3 linked regions of the Homo sapiens genome follow. The protein of the gene in region 1 interacts with the protein of each later gene in a pairwise test. Each region holds a gene or a part of one and is shown in the gene's direction. Other genes may lie near its edges.

Evidence for each region.
Region 2: the proteins of TSPAN4 (region 1) and NOTCH2NLA interact in binary tests that used the Homo sapiens proteins (3 or more experiments, as listed by UniProt).
Region 3: the proteins of TSPAN4 (region 1) and LRRC25 interact in binary tests that used the Homo sapiens proteins (3 or more experiments, as listed by UniProt).

The regions. Positions count from the first base shown.
Region 1 is NC_000011.10:859,830-866,854, forward strand, and holds part of TSPAN4 (tetraspanin-4), read left to right. Parts: intron 1-2,720; coding exon 2,721-2,912; intron 2,913-4,607; coding exon 4,608-4,682; intron 4,683-5,683; coding exon 5,684-5,785; intron 5,786-5,864; coding exon 5,865-5,996; intron 5,997-6,088; coding exon 6,089-6,172; intron 6,173-6,732; coding exon 6,733-6,801; 3' UTR 6,802-7,025. UniProt on the Homo sapiens protein: Structural component of specialized membrane microdomains known as tetraspanin-enriched microdomains (TERMs), which act as platforms for receptor clustering and signaling.
Region 2 is NC_000001.11:146,149,001-146,156,025, reverse strand, and holds part of NOTCH2NLA (notch homolog 2 N-terminal-like protein A), read left to right. Parts: 3' UTR 1-7,025.
Region 3 is NC_000019.10:18,394,602-18,401,873, reverse strand, and holds the start of LRRC25 (leucine-rich repeat-containing protein 25 precursor), read left to right. Parts: upstream 1-4,251; 5' UTR 4,252-4,910; coding exon 4,911-5,689; intron 5,690-7,272. UniProt on the Homo sapiens protein: Plays a role in the inhibition of RLR-mediated type I interferon signaling pathway by targeting RIGI for autophagic degradation.

The DNA.
Region 1 (7,025 bases):
GCTGGGCACTGTGCCCAGGTCTCCTATTGGCTCCCTGCAGCCACGAGGGGCTGTGTGGTCAGAGCCAGCAAGTCAGCCCCTGCCTCGGTACTCCCAATCCTGGGGCCCAGAGCACAGGGGTGACCCCTCTTCCTGCACCCAGTCTGTCCAGCTCCCCTGTGCGCTGTGCCTGGCCTGCTGGGGAGGGGCTCTGGGCGTGGGTGTCAGAGCTCAGCAGGCACCAGGAGCCAATGGCTCAGCAGAGCTTCCCAAGATAGGTCCTGCGCTGGCAGCCTCCGGACAGCGTTCTGTTTTGAACTTTAAGCGGAGATGCTACCTCTGGAAGGCCGGGGAAGGACAGAGCCTGCCTTCTCCCCAGGATGGCCTGAGCGTGTGTGGGACTTGTGGGGCCCCAGCAGTGGGGGGAATCTGCTCTGAGGGGATTTTACCCTGTGGAGCCCAGAGGGACCGAAGACACCAGTGACAGGCCTGGCCTGAATCTTGGGGCACCAGCAGCCATGCTGGCCCTTGGGCAGGGAGCTGTGTCCCATCTCCCCAGCACAGCCTCCTGCCTGCCAGCCAGCCAGTAAAAGGGTGGCGGCCTCCAACCTCCAGCCTGGCGCTGGCTGATGCACTGCTCAGGGAGGGGCAGGTGAGCGTGCACACGAGGAGGGGGCATCTCCCACCCCCAGGCCCCCTGAGGCAAGAGTGTTGGGGCTCATGGGCCCTCCGTGGGCCCTGCCAGGGTGGAGGCCCCAGGCCTGTCTTGAGCTGGGCTGGTGTTGCAGGTGGGGGTGGGGCGGCTGCTGGTGGCCAGCAGCTATCCCAGCCTTGGTTTCTGTCTGGAAAGTGGGGTGTGAGTCTGGCCACTGGGGCTTGGGAGGCTTTTATGGGGTGACTTGGGGCTTCTGGTAGTCCCCCGGGAACCCCCAGAGCCTGGGGTCTGAGCCTGTCCTCAGGCATGTGGTCTGGGTGCTCCAAGGGGTTTCATCAGGTTGAGGGGTGGCTTTGCCAGCCCATTCCCAAGTCCTGTCCAGTCCAGGGTGGGGCAGGGATCCCCCAGGGCTGCGCGGCCCTTCCCCAGAACCAGTCAACCGTCGGCACCCCAGGACGTCTACCCACCACCCACCTGGGCACCCACGCTGCAGACCGGGAGCTGGTCAGCATTTTCGGGGGACTGCTTGTCCCGTGCCCAGGCCTGGAACATATCTCCCGTCTCATCCTGAAACGGCCCAAGCCCGAGGCCTCTGTCTGAAGGTGGGGTCCTGGCGGACCCCTGCTTCCCTTGAGGCCTTGCTGGGCCAGCAGCCTAGCACCCTCTCTCTGGGCGCAGCACCCCCTCGTCTCCCCCTGCCTCTTCCTGTTTTAATTGATTTTTATAAGAACAAGCACTTAGGAAACACAGTAAGAGCTCTGGCGGTTACAGACACTGCAGGAGGTGGCCCTCCGGGTGGCAGGTGCTCCTGTGGGACCCGCCTGCTTTGTTCCCACCAGTGCCCATGTGGCTGTAAGAAATCATAACTTGGCCGGGCGCGGTGGCTCATGCCTGTAATCTCAGCACTTTGGGAGGCCGAGACGGGCTGATCATGAGGTCAGGAGATTGAGATCAAGACCATCCTGGCGGCTGGGCGTGGTGGCTCACGCCTGGAATCCCAGCACTTTGGGAGGTCGAGGTGGGTGGATCACGAGGTTGGGAGATCAAGACCATCCTGGCTAACACGGTGAAACCCTGTCTCTACTAAAAGTACAAAAAATTAGCTGGGCGTGGTGGCGGGCGCCTGTAGTCCCAGCTACTCGGGAGGCTGAGGCAGGAGAATGGCGTGAACCCGGGAGGCGGAGGTTGCAGTGAGCCGAGATCGCGCCACTGCACTCCAGCCTGGGTGACAGTGCGAGACTCGGTATCAAAAAAAAAACAAAAAAGACTATTGTGGCTAAACCATCTCTACTAAAAATACAAAAAATTAACCGGGTGTGGTGGGGGCATGCCTGTAATCCCAGCTACTTGGGAGGCTGAGGCAGGAGAATCACTTGAACCTGGGAGGCGGAGGAGGTTGCAGTGAGCCCAGATGGTGCCACTGCACTCCAGCCTGAGCAACAGGGTGAGACTCCATCTCCAAAAAAAGAAAAAAAGAAAGAAATCATAACCAGGAGCAGAGTGTGAGGGAATCAGCGTTTCTCCTGCCACGAGTGACAGGGGACAGCTGGGGACATCACAGAGATCTTGTCGGGAGCTGGGAATCGGAATCCTGGGACCACCTGCCAGGAAGCCCCATCCCGGAGTGAGGGCAGGGCTGGGTCTCCCTGACAGCACAGTCTGGAAAGGCTGGAGTGGCCTGTCAGGTGGGGAGTGAGCCTTCTGCCCTGCGCAGACCAGACGGTGAAGCGGGGTTAGGGGTGTGCAGACTGCGTCCTGGGGCCTAAGATCCCGTCCCTTTGGCTCCAGGCCAGGGGTTGGGCGGATCCCTCCTAGAGGGAGTGGTTCAGAGGCACAAGGGAGCCTCCCCGACTGTGGCCATGGAGTGTGGGTTTGGGGATGGGGTGCCAGCCCAGGGTGTCGGGAAAGACTGGCCTGCCCTGGACACCCCCCCGGGCTGCCGTGGGATCTAGCAGGACTCTGGGTGGTTCTGGCTCAGGCTGGCAGGCGGCATGGCTTTGGGCTTGTGGGCCGGGCTCTGCCCTGGGGTCCAGAGCTTGCATTGGGGCCTCACCCTGTCTGTGTCTCTCCTGTTGCTGTGCCCCAGCTGGGAGGCTGTGGCGTGCTGGGTGTCGGCATCTGGCTGGCCGCCACACAGGGGAGCTTCGCCACGCTGTCCTCTTCCTTCCCGTCCCTGTCGGCTGCCAACTTGCTCATCATCACCGGCGCCTTTGTCATGGCCATCGGCTTCGTGGGCTGCCTGGGTGCCATCAAGGAGAACAAGTGCCTCCTGCTCACTGTGAGTGCCGGGGCCCAAGCGATGCTCCGGGTGGGACCACGCAGGGTGGGGCTCCGGTGGCCCCCAGGCCTTGGCTGCCGCAGTGACCCCCCAGACGTGGGCACCACCTCTGGGGCCGGACCTCCAGGCTGGCAGTGTGGCCCGGGGCCCTGGCCACTGTTGGGTCTTCCAGGCCACACTGGGGCTGGGGGGTGATTTGCAGAGCGGTGTGGGGGTCACTCAAGAGAACGTGCTGTACCTTGTCAGGGGCCTCCCCTGACGGGACACTGGCCCTGGTGAGTGCAGGCACAGCCCCGCACACACGTACACACGCATGCGCAGCCTTTCACGGGCTTGCGGTCTCCGTGACTCATTCCTGACCACCCCACCCCCACTGTGGCCCCTTCCCCAGCTTCTTGTTGGGGGCCTGGTCTCTCAGCTCCCTGGGACCGGCTGCTGGGACGATCCCAGCCCCCACCTCGCCTCGGGGATGGACTTACAGGCAGGGATATGTTTATCCTCCTTAGAAATGTTAATCACAGATAATTAAAAAGGAAAAGGGCTCCTAGATGGAAACACAGGCTTGCTACTGATTAACATGCCTGGCCGAGGCCGTGGGCCCTGCGGAGGGTGTGCAGCCTGCTGAGGTCCTAAATCACGAGGCTTCCGATCACTCCTTTGTCTGGGAAGCCCTGGATGGGTTGGGGCCTCCCTTAGGTCGCCTCAGCCAGTCCACTCCCCTCCGTACCCCTTCCTGGGGGCAAGCCCCAAGTCTATCAGCCTCCCTGGCATCAGGTTGGGGCCCAGAGACCCCTGGAGGCAGTCGGTGGGGGTCTGTGGCAGCCCTACTGGGGCTTGGAGCTCCTCAGTTGAGGAAGCTGCTGTGTGTGGGCCCCACCAGGCCTGCAGGGACCGAAGCCCAACCCCCTTTCCCATGGGTGACTTGGGACCAGAACCCTGGGTACCTCCTGGGGGTGAAGGACTCCTGTGTCCTTAGCCCAGCACCCTGTCTGCCCCACTCACGCCCACTCTGCCTGGGCCCCCCAGCTCCTGGACACATGCTGTCCATGCCTGCCCTCCTCTTTTGTGGGTGTCACTGACCCCCGCATGGAGGAGCAGCAGGGCTGGGGTCAGGCTGAGCTTTGGGGCTGCCGCCAGGCGGGGGAAGCTTGCATGGTCAGAGGTGGGGCTTGCAGCCTGTGGTCTTGCTGGAGGGGGCATCAGCCACGCTGGCTGCCCTGAGGACTGTGACGTGTGGGCAGAAGGGGCCTCTGCAGCCCAGCTGTGGCCCCTGCTGGGACATCTTCCCACCATGAAGACAGGCACCCAGCGAGGCACCTGCCAGACACTCAGAGGCCCCTGGATGGAGGTGTCCTGAAGGCAGCTGACAGGGGCTGGGGCCTCAGGAACAGGGATTTGTGCCCACTTGGGGGTGTCTGGGTTGCCCCAGGGATGGGGGCAGGGGAGGGGAGCCCAGGCCAGCCCAGGGCCCCACACTCAGGGGCTGAGCAGGACACAACAGCCACAGTCCCTGGACCTGGGGCCAAGGGTTCTGAGGTGGGGGCGGCGTTCTGGGCTCTCTGGGAGTGGGGGCCTGGCAGAGGTTTCCTGGCAGCACCAGGTATCCATGAGGTACGTGGCCCTGGCCCCTGGCATGCTGTGGGGCGGAGGCTGTGCGGCCTTTCGGGTCCCTGTCTGAGCCTGCCCCCTCCACAGTTCTTCCTGCTGCTGCTGCTGGTGTTCCTGCTGGAGGCCACCATCGCCATCCTCTTCTTCGCCTACACGGACAAGGTACGGCTGCCTTGGCCGCAGGCCCAACTGCAGGGCTGGGGGCTCCATCCTCACTCCCAGGGAGCACTGTGGGCCCGGTGTGGACAGAGTGGCCCTGCATGTGCCCTCACGGGCAGCCAGGACAGCGGGTGTGGATTTACCAGGCCTGGAGGGGCAGCGCCAGCGACCCTGGGAGGCTGTGCTGTGGCTCTATAGCGACTGGGGCACAAGGGCACTGCTACCCCACCCGGAGGGTGCGCCCCAGGTTGTCCCCCGCCCTCTGACGCAGCGTCCTGAGCCGTCTGCTCCCAGCGCCCCATCCGGGCCGCGCACCGTGGGGTTCTCCTCTGTAGAGCGGCCTCTTCTTGGTCACTCACTCATATATTCAGCCATTTGTTTATACTGGGATGAAGTCCTGGCTATTGAGGTTGCACTCCGAGCTAGAACACACTACTTTGTTTTGTGAATCACACTGTCCGTCCTTGGCCCTGGGGAGCTTCTGCCGTCTGCTGCTGGGTCCCCTGACGTGCCCCCATCAACAGACTTTTCATTTTGGGGCACGTCCTGACTTCCTGGCACTGCAGGGCGCTCCAGGCTCCTTCATTCCCTGCCCTGGCCCAGGAATCAGCCCCTTCTCCAGGGTGCTCTGGGTCCTCACTGAATATTGGGGACCGAGGCCAGGGTGCTGGGTGGGCTCAGCGCTCATAGCCCCTGGCTTTCAGCTCACAGAGCATGGCTGCACGTGTCCCGATACGTGGAGGCACCTGTGTCCCTGTCCTCTGTCCCCCCAGGACCCATGGTCCTCCCCCAGCCTGGGGAGGAAGCCCAGAGGTGGGGGCCCTGGGCCTCAGGGCTGCTGGGAGGACATGGGGCCGGTGTGTCTGCAGCTTGGTGGGCTAGGAGGCGCGGGGGACACAAGACCAGGCGCAGGAGGGGCCCAGCTTAGGGGCCGGCGAGGGGGTCTGGATGAGGGAGGCGGGGTACAGTGGGAGGGGCCCTGCTGACCCCCCCCGCACCCCCAGATTGACAGGTATGCCCAGCAAGACCTGAAGAAAGGCTTGCACCTGTACGGCACGCAGGGCAACGTGGGCCTCACCAACGCCTGGAGCATCATCCAGACCGACGTGAGGCGTGGGCAGGTGGGCGGGGTCGGCGGGTGCCCCCTCCCCTCCTGCCTCAGCCCGACCTGAGCTTGCCCCCCAGTTCCGCTGCTGTGGCGTCTCCAACTACACTGACTGGTTCGAGGTGTACAACGCCACGCGGGTACCTGACTCCTGCTGCTTGGAGTTCAGTGAGAGCTGTGGGCTGCACGCCCCCGGCACCTGGTGGAAGGCGGTGAGTGAGACCCCCACCCTGGGGGCTGGTAGGGGCCTAGAGGGCGGGACCAGCAGGCCCTGCCGTGACACGCATGACATCCCTCCCTGCAGCCGTGCTACGAGACGGTGAAGGTGTGGCTTCAGGAGAACCTGCTGGCTGTGGGCATCTTTGGGCTGTGCACGGCGCTGGTGCAGGTATGGCCTGGGGGCCTGCGGGCTCCCTGCCCCCACTTTGTTAGGACCTTCTGAGCCCAGGGAACAAAGTAGCAAAGACCTTGCCCCCAGGAACCCACGATCGGGGGAGGCCGGGGCAAAAGCAGGAGGGCGAGTTCAGGGGGATGGGCAGGGACGGCCTGTGGGGACAGTGGGCTCCCTCTTAGTGGACAGAGGCAGAGGCTGGTGTGGGGTGGAGGCCGGTGGTCGTCCATGTTGGTCGGTGGCCCAGGACTGGCCAGTGCACAGAGGGTGGCAGCTGGGGCCCTGGTGCCAGTGGCCCCTGGTTTCCAAACTCCACAGCCCTCAGGAAGTTCTGGGTGTCCTCATGCCTGCAAGGCTCAGGGGAGGGTGCTGTGGCTCGAGCCACAGGGGTTGGGTGGGGCGTGCAAGCCACCAGGAAGCTGAAGGGCTCTGCCACTGTGTCGCCCACCCTGGGGTCGGGGTCAGGGCCAGGGCACCTGCTGAGGACAGGGACTGCTCTGGGCTTGAGGCCTGAGCCTGTGGAGCTGCCATGCCCAGTCCTCCTCCCCTACCTACAGATCCTGGGCCTGACCTTCGCCATGACCATGTACTGCCAAGTGGTCAAGGCAGACACCTACTGCGCGTAGGCCGCCCACCGCCCGCTTCTCTGCCAAAAGGACGCCCACGGGGAGATGGCCGCACCCACAGCTGCCTTTCCCACCACCAGCCTCGGTGCTCTGCCCCATGCTGGGAGGAGGGAGGGAGGGACAGGTGCCTGGAGCCCCCGGAACCCTGTTTCTGGAAGGCCCTAGCTCAGGTGGCTTCAGGGCCTCCGGACCCCCCCTGGGAGGGGTGGCCACGTGCTGGCTGC
Region 2 (7,025 bases), on another chromosome or scaffold:
CACCTAAATGCACCCAGCTGCCCTTGATTTTCTCTGGGCTACTGGCCTTCACAACCCTCTCCCATGTACCCTCTCTGACTTTGGGGTAACCCTCCCCTAACTTAAAGCTAGAGAATTCTGAAACTGAGGAGGGGATCCTCTGTTAATCAGTGAGCACTTTTTGATGAGCTGATAGATGATATATGAGAGACTATGCGTGGCACAATACTTTGTTACACTCTTCACTGATACAAGTGTTCTAGAGTGTACACACAACCCAAAGATAGAAATAAAAAGAGGAGCAGTGTCGGGGAGCTTGGGGCCTGGTGTTCCATGGAGAGGGAGAAAGGAACAAGCTTGACCAATTCATTCAACTCCTTATAAAAATGATGAGGAGGCTGAAAACCAAGAATTTTGATTGGGAACAGAATACAAGCAGCTGAATCAGATGAATTACTAAGCAACAAAGATCCTGTTTTTATACAAATATCCTTAGTACAAAAACAAAAGAAGGAAAACTGTAGGGGGGAGTAATGTGCTAAGTAAGCAGAATTGCCTCAAAAAGAAGTTGTTCTAGTTACTCTTTCAGAGTGGGAATCTTAGATTCTGGTATTGTGGATATGGTTCACATATAATGGGATTGTGTGTTTTATTTTGGAGGGATTAAAGGTCATAGTTTGGTCCTCAGTATAAAATCAACTGGTAATTTATTCATTTCATTTGGTAAAAATGTATTGACTGCCTGCTATGTTCTAGGCACCATGCTATGTATTTGGAATACAGCTATACAAAGCATTGTCACATAATTGAAATGAAAATTTTATATTATTTAAGTCACAAGAACAAGCTATTTAATTATATTACTTTTAGTTTCTCTTTTAATAAAGAATAGATAATGCTATCATTCTAGATACTAAATAAGTATTTTCTTAACATAATATTACTATCCACTTTATCTTGTAGAAGAAATAACTAAAATACATCTGTCTTCACTCCTGTATTTGTTTGCATTTTAAGGATTAAAGACAGAAATAGAAATGTAAACAACTTTATTTTGAAAATATTTCAACACTGCAAATATCTCTGGGTCTGATATTCTAGTAATCTAATTGGCTAGTAATTGATGTTAGTGTGATTTATTGTTGAAGGCTAAATGTGTTTTTCAGTTTCAAGAAAATTGCTTTTAATAATTGCCTAGAACAAGAGGTTGATTTGGCAGCAAGATGTTGACGGGAAGTTAGAGAAGTCAATAAAGGAAGTTTTTAGCTGAGAGAGAGTGATTATTCACTCCCATAGCCTCTGCATTGTTATCCATTAGCCACGATAAGAACCTTAGGGAATTCTGAGAGTGTGTCCAGGAAAGGATCTGTCAAACTAGAATAGTATCTCCTCCTTGAGAAAGGAAATAACCAAGGATTCCGCAGCTGAGAGGCTGCCAGGGCTAGTGAAATAGAGTAAGGAAATCTTGGCTGTCTCTTATTCTCTGGTTGTAGTTTAACGCAAGACACTTATTTACTCACTGATGGTGTGTGTGTGTGTGGGAGGGGAGATTAGCATGAGGGGTGGGAATGGGGAGATTCGATGAAGAGAAAACTAACATTTTTTTGGTGACTCAGGAACTGTGCCAGGTACTTCCATGCTTATTAGCTCAATTACACAAAAATCTTGGGACCAGGTATTATTTTTCAAGTCTTCCCACATGAAGTAACTGAAGTTTGGAGATGTTAAGTGATTCACCCAAAGTTGTACAGCTAATATGTGGTTAGGCTGGGTCCTGAAACCGAGGCAGTTTATTTTCAAAGCCTTTGCTTTGTGCATCTTACTGCGCCACATTGCACTGCACATCTGCTTCCTGAAAGCACTTTGTAGGTGTGTAAAACTTTTCGTTAAATGCTTTAAGCTGTTTGGGTTAAAAATATATGTTCATGTTATAAGAAAACCAAGACACTCCTAATTATAATCAAATAGTACTTGTTACATATCAATATGTGTGTGTGTGTGTGTGTGTGTGTGTGTGTGTGTGTGTGTGTGTGTGTGTGTATGGCGTTGTGCAGATGTTTAAAAGTAGTTACATAGACTAGTTCTTGCTTTTCAGGGTCCCATAATCTAAACCAGATGACTTCAGCTTTGGATAAATATATAGAAGGAAATTTAAAGAGAATTCAAAACAATAGATGATGCAGTGACACTGTGAATAAATGTTATTTATACAGTTTGTAAGATTTCATGCTCATTGTTCATATGTCCCAGGTGGAGTTCAGAAAATATTCTCTTCATTTCCACAAAGGGGAATAGTGCCTGGAGATGGTTTTCTTTTAAAAAGTCCTTTTCATAATGCAGTGCCCTTCCTTCCATTGCCCTTCATTCCATTGCTTCCCATGCTTGTCAAGAGACTAAAATGTTACTTATAGTAATAGTCACTATCTCAATGTAAATAGCACCCTTATTTGATGAGAATTATTATTTCAGTTCTAAAAATGGGGAAACAAAGTCAGCAGGAGGCAAAGTAGCTTGTTAAAGTATTCTGCAACTTTCAAATGGTTGCTTCCACTGCATTTCACGTCTTGGCACTTCTAATTGAGGGTTACTCTAACCACCCTATTTAAAATTGTAACTGTCCCCCACCCCCTTAATTACTAACCCTGGTCTACTTTTTGTTTTCTTTTTCTGTAACTCTTATCTTCTTACTATATAATTTATACTATATAATTTACTTCATTATGTCTATTGTTCATTGTCTGTCTTTTCCAAATTCTACTGCCTCTTACCCTCTCCAGAATGAAAACTAGTATCTTTGTTTTTGTTTACTGATGTAACCCAAACACCTACAAACAGTGCCCAGTATATACTAGGCCCACAAATATATATTGGCTGACTGACTGTATGGTTTAGTATCATGTCATAGTATTGAGACTGTAACTTTGGTCTTCTCATTTTCTTCTTTGTATTGTGCGTCCTAGACTTAGTTTGGCCTCTCCTTTTGTCCTTGTATACTCTAATACTGGATAAGAATTTTGGAGTCTTTTTCAACTCTGAGTCAGTGAATGCCACATAACTTAGTGACTATATTTAAATGGTTAATTTACAATTTTTTCCCTGCAAAGGATACTGTAGTCACTGTGAGTATTTTAGTATTATTGTAGGACTCAAGAGGGAATTAAAACTACAAAAATGACTCCTCTTGTATGACACAGAAAGAAATGTTTCTTCACAGAGGGAGGAGAAAAATATCTTCAAGAGAGAACTAATAGAATCAAATCAATGAACCATGTCTCATCTTTTTGGATAAGTAACTGTTAGTAATCCAGACACTTCATGAGCTTTCATTATGTAAAGTCTTTAGCAGAAGCTAAAGGAGGGGCACCAACCACAGTAATTTTAACTTAAGAACAAAATGGAGCATGAAAATAAATTATTAAATCATTTACTCCCACTATTTTTGGGTTAGGGCCAATAATGGGGAGAGAAAGAGGTAGACTAGTTTTGTGTTTGTGGCTATTTTAATAGAGTAGCACAAGTAATCAAAAAACAGTAGGCTGTTTTGAATTTACTGGCTGTCCCTTATGAGTTCACAGTTAGATTGGACTGTCCTCAATGTACTTTCTTTTTTTTCTTTCTTTCCCACATCTCTTTATTTCTCTGATTTTGTTTAAACTTCATAAAGAGCTCTCTGATCTTTCCTTTCCAAACAATGAAGGTTTATCCTTTGTAAACTACCTCTGTACTCCACAGGCTGATGATATGTGATATCCCTATATCATTAAAGTAAAGCCTAAGCACATTCTATGGCTTTTGTGTCTACTCTGTTGTTGCTGAGCTTATGAACTATTAGAAATAACTCCCTCTTGCATTTTCACACATGGGGAATGTGATGTTCTCTTGGGTATTATGCTAATCATATTTTGGCAGGTTTCTCTGGAGCAGATGCAGAAATGATCATACCACTTTCCAGGGTGTATTATTTTAGCTCCTTTGACTTGGGCCCTAAGTCTGTTTTACCTGATGTTCCTGAAAGATGTTCCTGATGTCCTTCACTGTTCTTTCATGCTGGATGTTCTTGCCTATGCTGCCTCCTCAGCTATCACCCTCTCTTCCCCTTTTTAATGTAGAACTCATTCTTAATGATTTGTCAAAGGCACCCTATTTCACTGAAATGCCTTCTATATTCCCTACCCTCCAAGTGGATTGTAGACCTTCTAAGGTCTTTTGACATCTGCATATCTCTAGCACAGCACTTATCACGGTGATTATTTATCTGTTCATCTTTCCAAGTAGACACTCTCATTTTAACTCCCTACCCTAGTCGCCAGCATCCCCAGCATAGTGCCTGTCATAAAATGGTGCCACAATGAAAATTTGAAAAATGAATGAACGTGATAAACATAGATGAGAATCCTATATTCTACAATTTTTTAAATGTACTGAAATTATTCTTTTTGAATCCTCCTATTTATTTCTGTGACTTCTTTGATGACAAAGTTAGAAAAAAGTGGAGGTCAGTAGGGAGATATGAAGGGACGCAGGTGGAAGCAGTGAGCCTGGGCGGGTGATGGAGTGGGAGATACGTGGCACAGGGGTCAGTGAGTTAATCTGGGCTCATTCAGAGAATGGAAGGTGTGTGCCAAGAAAACTGGTTGGATAGGGATAGGTCAGGGATTCCCTCTTGCATTCTCACACTTGGGGGCATGTGTCATTTTCTTTTCTTTTCTTTTTTTTTTTTTTTTTTTTTGAGACGGAGCATCGCTCTTTCTCCCAGGCTGGAGTGCAATGGTGCTATCTCGGCTCACTGCAACCTCCACCTCCCGGGTTCAAGCTATTCTCATGTCTCAGCCTTCCAAGTAGCTGGGACTACAGGTGCCTGCCACCATGCTCAGCTAATTTTTGTATTTTTAGTAGAGATGGGGTTTCACCATGTTGGTCAGGTTGGCCTCGAACTCCTGATCTCAGGTGATCCACCTGCCTCGGCTTCTCAAAGTGCTGGGATTCCAGGCATGAGCCACCATGCCTGGCCGCATGTGTCATTTTCTTGGGTGTTATACTGATCGTATATTTGCAGGTTTGCTTTTGTGACAGACTTCTTCTGGGGGAAAAAAAGTATCCTTCTATCTTTTTACTTTTGTCCAGTTCCAGGTATCCCTGTTTTTTTCTTCACTCTTCCTTCCTTGTTCATGGGAGTTTTTCTTGAGGACTTCAAGCCCAGCTTCGGAGAATCCTGGTTGTGTCATCTCATCTCCTTTCTGCTCTCTTCTCTACCTAGCCTTTCCACCCTCACACCTCCCGGGGTCTGAAAATGGAAAGATAAGGGTGTTTCCCTGAAAGTTGCTCTTCTGTGTGGGGATGACAGGTTCTAAAGACTCTTTTCTGGTCCCTGCCCTCATTGCCATGATTAATCAGTTAAGTGGCCCGAGGTTTTATAACAGCACAGTCTTAAAATGCTTCTCCCAAGTTTAATTTCTCTCCATTTGACCTTTTAAGGATGTGAATTGGCTTTAAGCAGTAGACTCCCTTTAGTACGGTGCTGTGAGCCTCTCAGTGAATCTGCTACATCCATTCCACCCACGGGTCTGGAAACTTGTCTGTTTACCTTTCCCTAAAAACCTAAGATATATTTTTAAGAAGTGCCTTGTAACTTTTCATATAGCCTTTCCCCTACTTTGGGTAGACTGTTTCTTACAGGAATTTGGTAGATCTTTCCAAAGAGAATTCTGTATCTGTATTTTTAAAGCATAAATCCTGTCAACTTTGGAGGAGAACTGATTTGGCTTGAGTTTTCTCAGACATGGGAACTTTTGACCTAAGTTTGTATTTTACATTGTTGAAAGGGAACTCCGGGATCCCAGAAAACATATGGACTGCAATTGGGTAAAGTTTCTGTTCCAGAAATGCCTCTTCTGGACATTTCATACAAATGGAAACATGCAGCATGTAGTAATTTATGACAGCTTCTTTCACTTAGCATGAGGTTTTCAAAGTTCATTGATGTGGTAGCATTTGTCAGTACTCTGTGCCTTTTTATGGCTGAATAATATTTTATCATATGGATTTACCACATTTTATCATTTTATTTATCCATCATCAGTTGATTGACATTTGAGTTGCTTCTACTTTTTGAGTATTATCAATAATTCTGTTATGAACATTCTTGTATAATTTTTTGGTAGACATTTATCTTCATATTTCTTGGATATATACCTAGGAGCAGAATTGCTGCGTCAGATGGTAATGCTGTTTAACCTTTTCAGGAACTGTCAGACTGTTCTGAAGTGGGTACATTATTTTACATTCCAACCAGCAGTGTATGAGAATTCCAGTTTCTCCACATCCTCATCAACAGTTGTTATTGTCTGTCTTTTTTATTATATTCATCTGTAATGTGAAGTGTTTATCTCATTGTGGTTTTGATTTACATTTCCCTGATGGTTGATGATTTTCAACATCTTTTCATATACTTATTAGTCATTATGTATCTTCTTTGGAGAATGTCTGTTCAGATCCTTTACCTACTTTATAATTGGTTTATCTTTTTAATATTGAACTGTAATAGTTTTTAAAAAATATATCCTAAATACAAGTCTCTTATCAGATAATATGATTTGCAGATATTTTCTGTCATTCTATGTACTGTCTTTTCACATTCTTGATGATATACTTTTCAGCCCAAATGTTTTTAACTTGATGGAATACAATTTATTTTTTCTTTTGTTGCTTGTGCTTTCAGTCATATTTGTGAAAACTTTGCTTATCCCACATTACAAAGATTTACTATTTCTAAGTGATTTATAATTTTACCACCTACCTTTAGGTCTCTGATCCATTTTGAGTTAATTTTTATGTGCGAGGAGGGAGTCTAACTTGATTCTTTTACATGTGGATATTTAGTTGTCCCAGGACCATTTGTTGAATTAAGTGCCCAGAACAAGTACATCTATATATAGAGAAAGTAGATTAGTGGTTGTCAGAGACTGTAAGAAGTGGGGAATTGGAGAGTGACTGCCCATAGGTACAGGCATGCTTTTTGGCATTATGAAAATATTCTGGAATTAGGT
Region 3 (7,272 bases), on another chromosome or scaffold:
ACAGTGAGAAGACGGTCATCTGCAAACTAGGAAGTGAATCTGCTGGTGCCTTGATCTTGGACTTCCCAGCTTCCGGAACTGTTGTTCATAAGCTACCCCAGTTTACGGCATATTTGTTATAGCAGCCTGAACAAACATTTGGAGACATCTGCTCTCTACCCAGGGCTGCTCCCACCACAGGGCCTTTGCACATGCTGTTCCCACTCCTGGATGCTGTTCCCCACATCCCTTCCTCCTTACTCCCTAAGGGGTTCCTTGATCATCCCATTGAAAAGTTGCTTCTGCGGCCAGGCTCAGTGGCTCACGCCTGTAATCCCAACACTCTGGGAGGCTGAGGAGGGTGGATCACCTGAGGTCAGGAATTCGGGACCAGCCTGGCCAACATGGTGAAACCCCGTCTCTACTAAAAATACAAAAAGTTAACTGGGCATGGTCCCATGCGCCTGTAATCCCAGCTACTTGGGAGGCTGAGGCAGGAGAATCGCTTGAACCCGGGAGGTGGAGGTTGCAGTGAGCCGAGATCGCATCACTGCACTCCAGCCTGGGCAACAAGAGCAAAACTCCGTTTCAAATAAATAAATAAATAAATAAATAAATAAATAAATAAATAAAAGTTTCCCATCTCATTTCCTGCCCTTATTTTTCTTTGCAGCATTCCCACCACCTGCACTTGATATATTTTCCCGATGGATTCTGCCTGTTGTCTGTTTCCCCAACTACAGTGAGAGGTGGGGGGAGGGGGGGCTGGGATTTTTGTCTGTTTTATTCACTGCTGTGTCTGTGGTTCATAGTACCTGGTATACAACAGGAACTTCATAAAGGCTTACAGAGGAAATGAATGAGTCTTTCCTTATAGGTTCATAGAGATTTATAATTTCATTTTCAGAACTTTGTGGCATGCTAGGATGGATGAACTGAACTGTTACTAATGTAACCAATCCTTTAAGTTATTTCCTTTTTTTTTTTTTCCTTCTTCTTGAGGCAGAGGATCACTCTGCACTCTGTCACCCCAGGCTGGAGTGCAGTGGCACGATTTCAGCTCACTTCAACCTCTGCCTTCCAGACTCAAGCGATCCTCCTGCCTTAGGTTCCCGAGTAGCTGGAACTGTAAGGATGTGCCACCACTCCCAGCTAATTTTTGTGTGTGTGTATATCTATCTATATATATATATAAAAATTTTTTTTTTTGGTAGACATGGGGTTTCACCATATTGCCCAGGCTAGTCTTGAACTCCTGGGCTCAAGCGATCCTCCTATCTTGACCTCCCAAAGTGCTGGGATTACAGGCATGACTCACTGTGCCCGGCCCATTTTATTTTTTTTCATGTAACAAACAATGCTGCAATGAATCACTTTGAGCCTGGAGCATCTTTTTGCCTTCTCTCTCTCTCTCTTTTTTTTTTTTATATGAAGTCTCGCTCTGTCACCAGGCTGGAGTGCTGTGGCGCGATCTAGGCTTACTGCAACCTCCAACTCCCTGGTTCAAGTGATTTTCCTGCCTCAGCCTCCCGAGTAGCTGGGATTACAGGTACATGCCACCACGCCCAGCTAATTTTTTGTATTTTTGGTAGAGACAGGGTTTCACAGCGTTGGCCAGGATTGTCTCAGTCTCCTGACCTTGTGATCCGCCCACCTCAGCCTCCCAAAGTGCTGGGATTACAGGTGTGAGCCACCACGCCTGACTTTGCCTTCTCAAAAAAACAAACCTGCAACATACACACAACATAAAATTGAACATTTTAGCCAATTTATTTATTTATTATTATTATTTTGAGATGGAGTTTTGCTCTTGTTGCCCAGGCTGGAGTGCAGTGCCGTGATCTCGGCTCAACTGCAAACTCTACCTCCCAGGCTCAAGTGATTCTCCTGCCTCAGCCTCCCAAGTAGCTGGGATTACAGGCATGCGCCACCACACCCGGCTAATTTTGTGTATTTAGTAGAGATGGAGTTTCTCCACGTTGGTCAGGCTAGTCTCAAACTCTGGACCTCAGGTGATCCGCCCACCTCAGCCTCCCAAAGTGCTGGGATTACAGGCATGAGCCACCGCGGCCGGCCCAGCCATTTATTTTAAATTATTTTTTAGAGATAGGGTCTTGCTCTGCTGCATAGGCTGGAGTGGAGTGGCACAATCACGGCTCACTGCAGTCACAACCTTCTGGGCTCAAGGGATCCTCCCACCTCAGCCTCTGAAGTAGCTGGGACTACAGGCTGAAGCCACCATGCCCAGCTAATTTTTAAATTATTATTATTATTATTATTATTATTATTATTGAGATGGAGTCTCGCTCTAACGCCCAAACTGGAGTGCAGTGGCATGATCTCAGCTCACTGCAACCTCTGCCTCCTGGGTTCAAGCGATTCTCCTGCCTCAGCCTCCCTAGTAGCTGGGATTACAGGCACGTGCCACCATGCCCAGCTAATTTTTGTATTTTTAGTGGAGACGGGGTTTCACCATGTTGGCCAGGCTGGTCTGGTACTCCTGACCTCGTGATCCGCCCACCTTGGTCCCCCAAAGTGCTGGGATTACAGGCATGAGCCACCACGTCCAGGCTGAGCCACATTTTTTTATTCGTTAGTCAGTTCACACTGTAAACATGCAAATATTCAGGCAGGGATTCCCAGAAGTGGACTTGCTGTGTCAGCAGGCACATGAGTTTATCATTCCGGTGGCCTGTGCCAGGGTGCCCTCCACCAGTGCTACACCATGGACGCACCCCACAGCCTGGCTGGCACAGAATGTCATTGCATTGTTGGATTTTTGCCAATTTGATTGGTGAAGACAAACAGTTTGTGATTTGCAGTTTTCTTATTAAGTGTGAACTTTTTTTTTTTTTTGAGACAGGTCTCACTCTGTTGCCCAGGCTGGAATGCAGTGGAGTGATCTTGGCTCACTGCAGCCTCCACCTCCTGGGTTCAAACAATTCTCCTGCCTCAGCCTCCTGAGTAGCTGGGACTACAGGCACATACCACCACACCTGGCTAATTTTTGTATTTTTTAAAGTAGAGACGGGGTTTCACCATGATGGCCAGGCTGGTCTCGAACTCCTGGGCTCAAGCGATCTGCTCACTTCAGCCTCCCAAAGTGTTGGGATTACAGGTGTAAGCCACTGCACCTGGCAAGAATGAGCATCTCTGGACATGTTGAAAAGCAGTTTCCCGCTTTTTCTTCAAGGTCTCCGTTCAAAGCCTTTGACCATTTCTTGGAGTTTGGCGATGTGAAGGACAGAGGCCGAAAAGAGGGGAAAACGTGGGGGAGTGGACTCCCAGCCTCCCAGATCCCGGAGAAGCCTCTGTGCATTTGACAGCTGTGGACATGGTGTCACACGCAGTTAAGGTGGCACAGTGAGTCGGGCTGGCATAGGTTGTACCTGGTCCACCTGACACCAGGTTCAGGTGAGGCCTTCTCCCAGCCCACCCCTCCTCAGTATCATTTTTGTCACTACTACCCCTCCAGTCTGCCTCAGGCCCCCATCTGCTTCTGGGACCTCAGCCTCCTCCCCAAGTTGCCCACCCCAGACACCAGGCTCACTCCAGAGGGACTTCTTGAGCCAGTGCCCCTCTGCCCACGCACCTGCCTTGGCTCCACATGGACCTCTTCCCCCACCACCAATTCCTTCTATCCTCTCCACTCCTAACCATGCTATCCCAGCCAGCTACATTTTCCCAAGCTGCTGGGAGCCCTCCTCACTGTCCCCTCCAGCATAGAGGTGCCACTGTGCAAGAACTCAGTGGGAGAGGCTTGGAGGAGCTTGGAGAGCCAATGATAGGTTTGGGGAATCTTAGTGAACTCCTACTCATGCGTTGAAGCCCCAACTGTAATGCCTCCTCCTCCAGGAAGCCTTCCAGGACCCTGTCTTTCCCTCTGGACCTTCCTTAACTGCATGGGACTAGGAGTGTCTATGTCCAGCTCTGTCCTCTCTTAAGATAGCTCCTTGAGGACCTGGTCAGGGCTGAGGCCTCTTGGGGGCCCAGCGTGGGTGATGCTTGTTGAATGAATAAATGACTGCATGAGCTGGGAACCAGCCAAGCTGAGATCAAGAAGCGAGTTGATGAGGTGGCAGTCGGTTGGGGTGCTAATAGAGGACATGAAGTCACTGGGTTCTAGCAAGAGGGAAGCGGGACTCTGGTCCACCCCTCCCTCTTGCCCTCCATCCACCTCTGGTGAGAACCTTGAGGCCCTGCAAGGGGGCGGATCTCTGTCTTCATTCTTCCCCTCTGCACTCCACCCAGACACCAGTTCCTCTTCCCCCTGAGTCGCTGGGTGCAGAGCCAGAGGAACGCCAGCGACCCCAGCAGCGCTGCGGACGGTGCTGGCCGTGGCCGCTGCGGCCCCCGTGTCCAGGTGGGCCAGGACGCAGCCTCTGGGCGCCGTCGCTTTTCCAGCATCGCAGAGGCAAAAGCGTGGCAGTGGGACCCAAAAGGTAGGACTGAGGCTCTAGAACTTGCACCTGTGCAGGGACTGCAAACCAGACCTGGGAGGACCCTTTCAGCAGCCCCCACTCCACCCTATCCCAGGACTTCCCAGCGACCCGCCGTTCTGGGAGATACCGGGAGCGTGATCAGGGGGCGGGGCCGTTTCCAAGGCAACCGCTTATTTGCATAGGGTCCCGTCCTGGCCAACGAGGGCGCCCCAAATGTTCAGGACATAGAAGAAGGGGTTAACTGGCCCGGATCTCCTCCTCGCCTTCCAAGCCCGCTAAGCACTGGGGTTATCTACCCATTCCCCAGAAGGGGAGACTGAGGCAGCCCACCAGCCAAAGGAGGCGACCAGACTGGGGCTGCGTTTTACCATTTCAGAAGCGGCTTGAGCTGGTCTGAGCTATAATAATAAACACTGGCGGTGGAGGCGAGGGCGACCACAGGGCTGAGGTCAGGGCTAGGATTCCGGTGTCTCTACGTAGGTTGCTTGAATGGGGGGCACCCTGGCATGGACGCTGCTGTTGCCGCTGCTGCTGCGGGAGTCAGACAGCCTAGAACCGTCGTGCACCGTGTCCTCCGCGGATGTGGACTGGAACGCGGAGTTCAGTGCCACGTGCCTGAATTTCAGTGGCCTCAGCCTGAGCCTGCCTCACAACCAGTCTCTGCGGGCCAGCAACGTGATTCTCCTTGACCTGTCTGGGAACGGCCTGCGAGAGCTTCCAGTGACCTTCTTTGCCCACCTGCAGAAGCTTGAGGTCCTGAACGTGCTACGCAACCCCTTGTCTCGTGTGGATGGGGCGCTGGCCGCCCGCTGTGACCTTGACCTGCAGGCCGACTGCAACTGTGCCCTGGAGTCCTGGCACGACATCCGCCGAGACAACTGCTCTGGCCAGAAGCCTCTGCTCTGCTGGGACACAACCAGCTCCCAGCACAACCTCTCTGCCTTCCTGGAGGTCAGCTGCGCCCCTGGCCTGGCCTCTGCAACTATCGGGGCAGTGGTGGTCAGCGGGTGCCTGCTTCTTGGACTTGCCATCGCTGGCCCTGTGCTGGCCTGGAGACTCTGGCGATGCCGAGTGGCCAGAAGCCGGGAGCTGAACAAACCCTGGGCTGCTCAGGATGGGCCCAAGCCCGGTTTAGGCTTGCAGCCACGGTACGGCAGCCGGAGCGCCCCCAAGCCCCAAGTGGCCGTGCCATCCTGCCCCTCCACTCCCGACTATGAGAACATGTTTGTGGGCCAGCCAGCAGCCGAGCACCAGTGGGATGAACAAGGGTAAGTAAGCCACTGAGACACCTGCCAAAGTGGTGAATAATAAGGCTCCACACCCAGATGGCCGAGGTTCAAATCCCAGCTCTGCCGCTTGAAGGCTGTGGGATCTTAGGTGAGTAGCTTTACTTCTCTGAGCCTCAGTCTCCTCACCTATAAAATGGGGAGAGGACTGGACATGGTGGCTCACACCTGTAATCCTAGCACTTTGGGAGGCCAAGGCAGGCGGATCACTTGAAGTCAGGAGTTTGAGACCAGCCTGGCCAACACGGTGAAACCCAGTCTGTACTAAAAATACAAAAATTAGCCAGGTGTGGTGGCGGGCGCCTGTGGTTCCAGCTACTGAGGAGGCTGAGGCAAGAGAATCTCTTGAACCTGGGAGTCAGAGGTTGCAGTGAGCCAAGTTCATGCCATTGCACTCCAGCCTGGGTGACAGAGTGAGACTCCATCTCAAAAATAAAATCAATAAAATAAAGTAAAATGAGGGAGAATTACAGCCCCCATCATAGTGTGTTGGGGTAAGAATTAAGTGAGTTCCCATATATGGGACAAACTTCCCCCCCTTATGACCTGTAAACCCAGTTTCTGGCGGCCAAGGATGGGGAGACAGGAGGCAACTGCTTGAGCGGAGTTGGGGCTCCGCGGTGGCGGTCAGCAGCATAGGCCCAGGTCCCATGTGACCCAAGGCTGTCTCTGAACCTCCATTTCTGTCTCCATAGAGTGGGGACAGCCCCCCATTTCCCCATGACACACATGAGATACTAAAGAGGTGCCCTACAAAGTCCCATCACCACTAGATGATTTTTTTTTTTTTTTTTTTGAGATGGAGTCTGGCCCTGTCATCCAGGCTAGAGTGTAGTGACACGATCTCGGCTCACTGCCAGCTCCGCCTCCCGGGTTCATGCCATTCTCCTGCCTCAGCCTCCCGAGTAGCTGGGACTACAGGCGCCCGCCACCACGCCAGGCTAATTTTTTGTATTTTTAGTAGAGACGGGGTTTCACCGTGTTAGCCAGGATGGTCTCGATCTCCTGACCTCGTGATCCGCCCACCTCAGCCTCCTTAAGTGCTGGGATTACAGGTGTGAGCCACCGCGCCCAGCCGACATTTTTTTTTGAGACAGTGTCATTCTGTCGCCCTGGCTGGAGTGCAGTGGCACCATCACAGATCACTGCAGCCTCAAGCTCCTGGCCTCAAGTGATCCTCCTGCCTCAGTCTCCAGAGTAGTTGGGACCACAGGCACATGCCGCCGCACCCAACTAATTTTTGTATTTTTCATAGAGACGGGGGTCTTGCTATATTTCTCAGGCTGGTCTCAAACTCTTGGCCTCAAGTGATCCTCATGTCTTAGCCTCCCAAAGTGCTGGCATTATGGGTGTGAGCCACCGCCACCGGCTTCTGGATGATTTTGCTGGGCTTAGACAAATGAGTTGAACTTTTCTAGGTTGGTGTGGGGTGCGGTGGCTCATGCCTATAATCCCAGCACTTTTCGAGGCCAAGGCGAGGTCAGATCACCTGTGGTCAGGACCTCAAGACCAGCCTGACCAACATGGTGGAACCCTGTTTCTACTAAAAAATACAAAAATTAGGC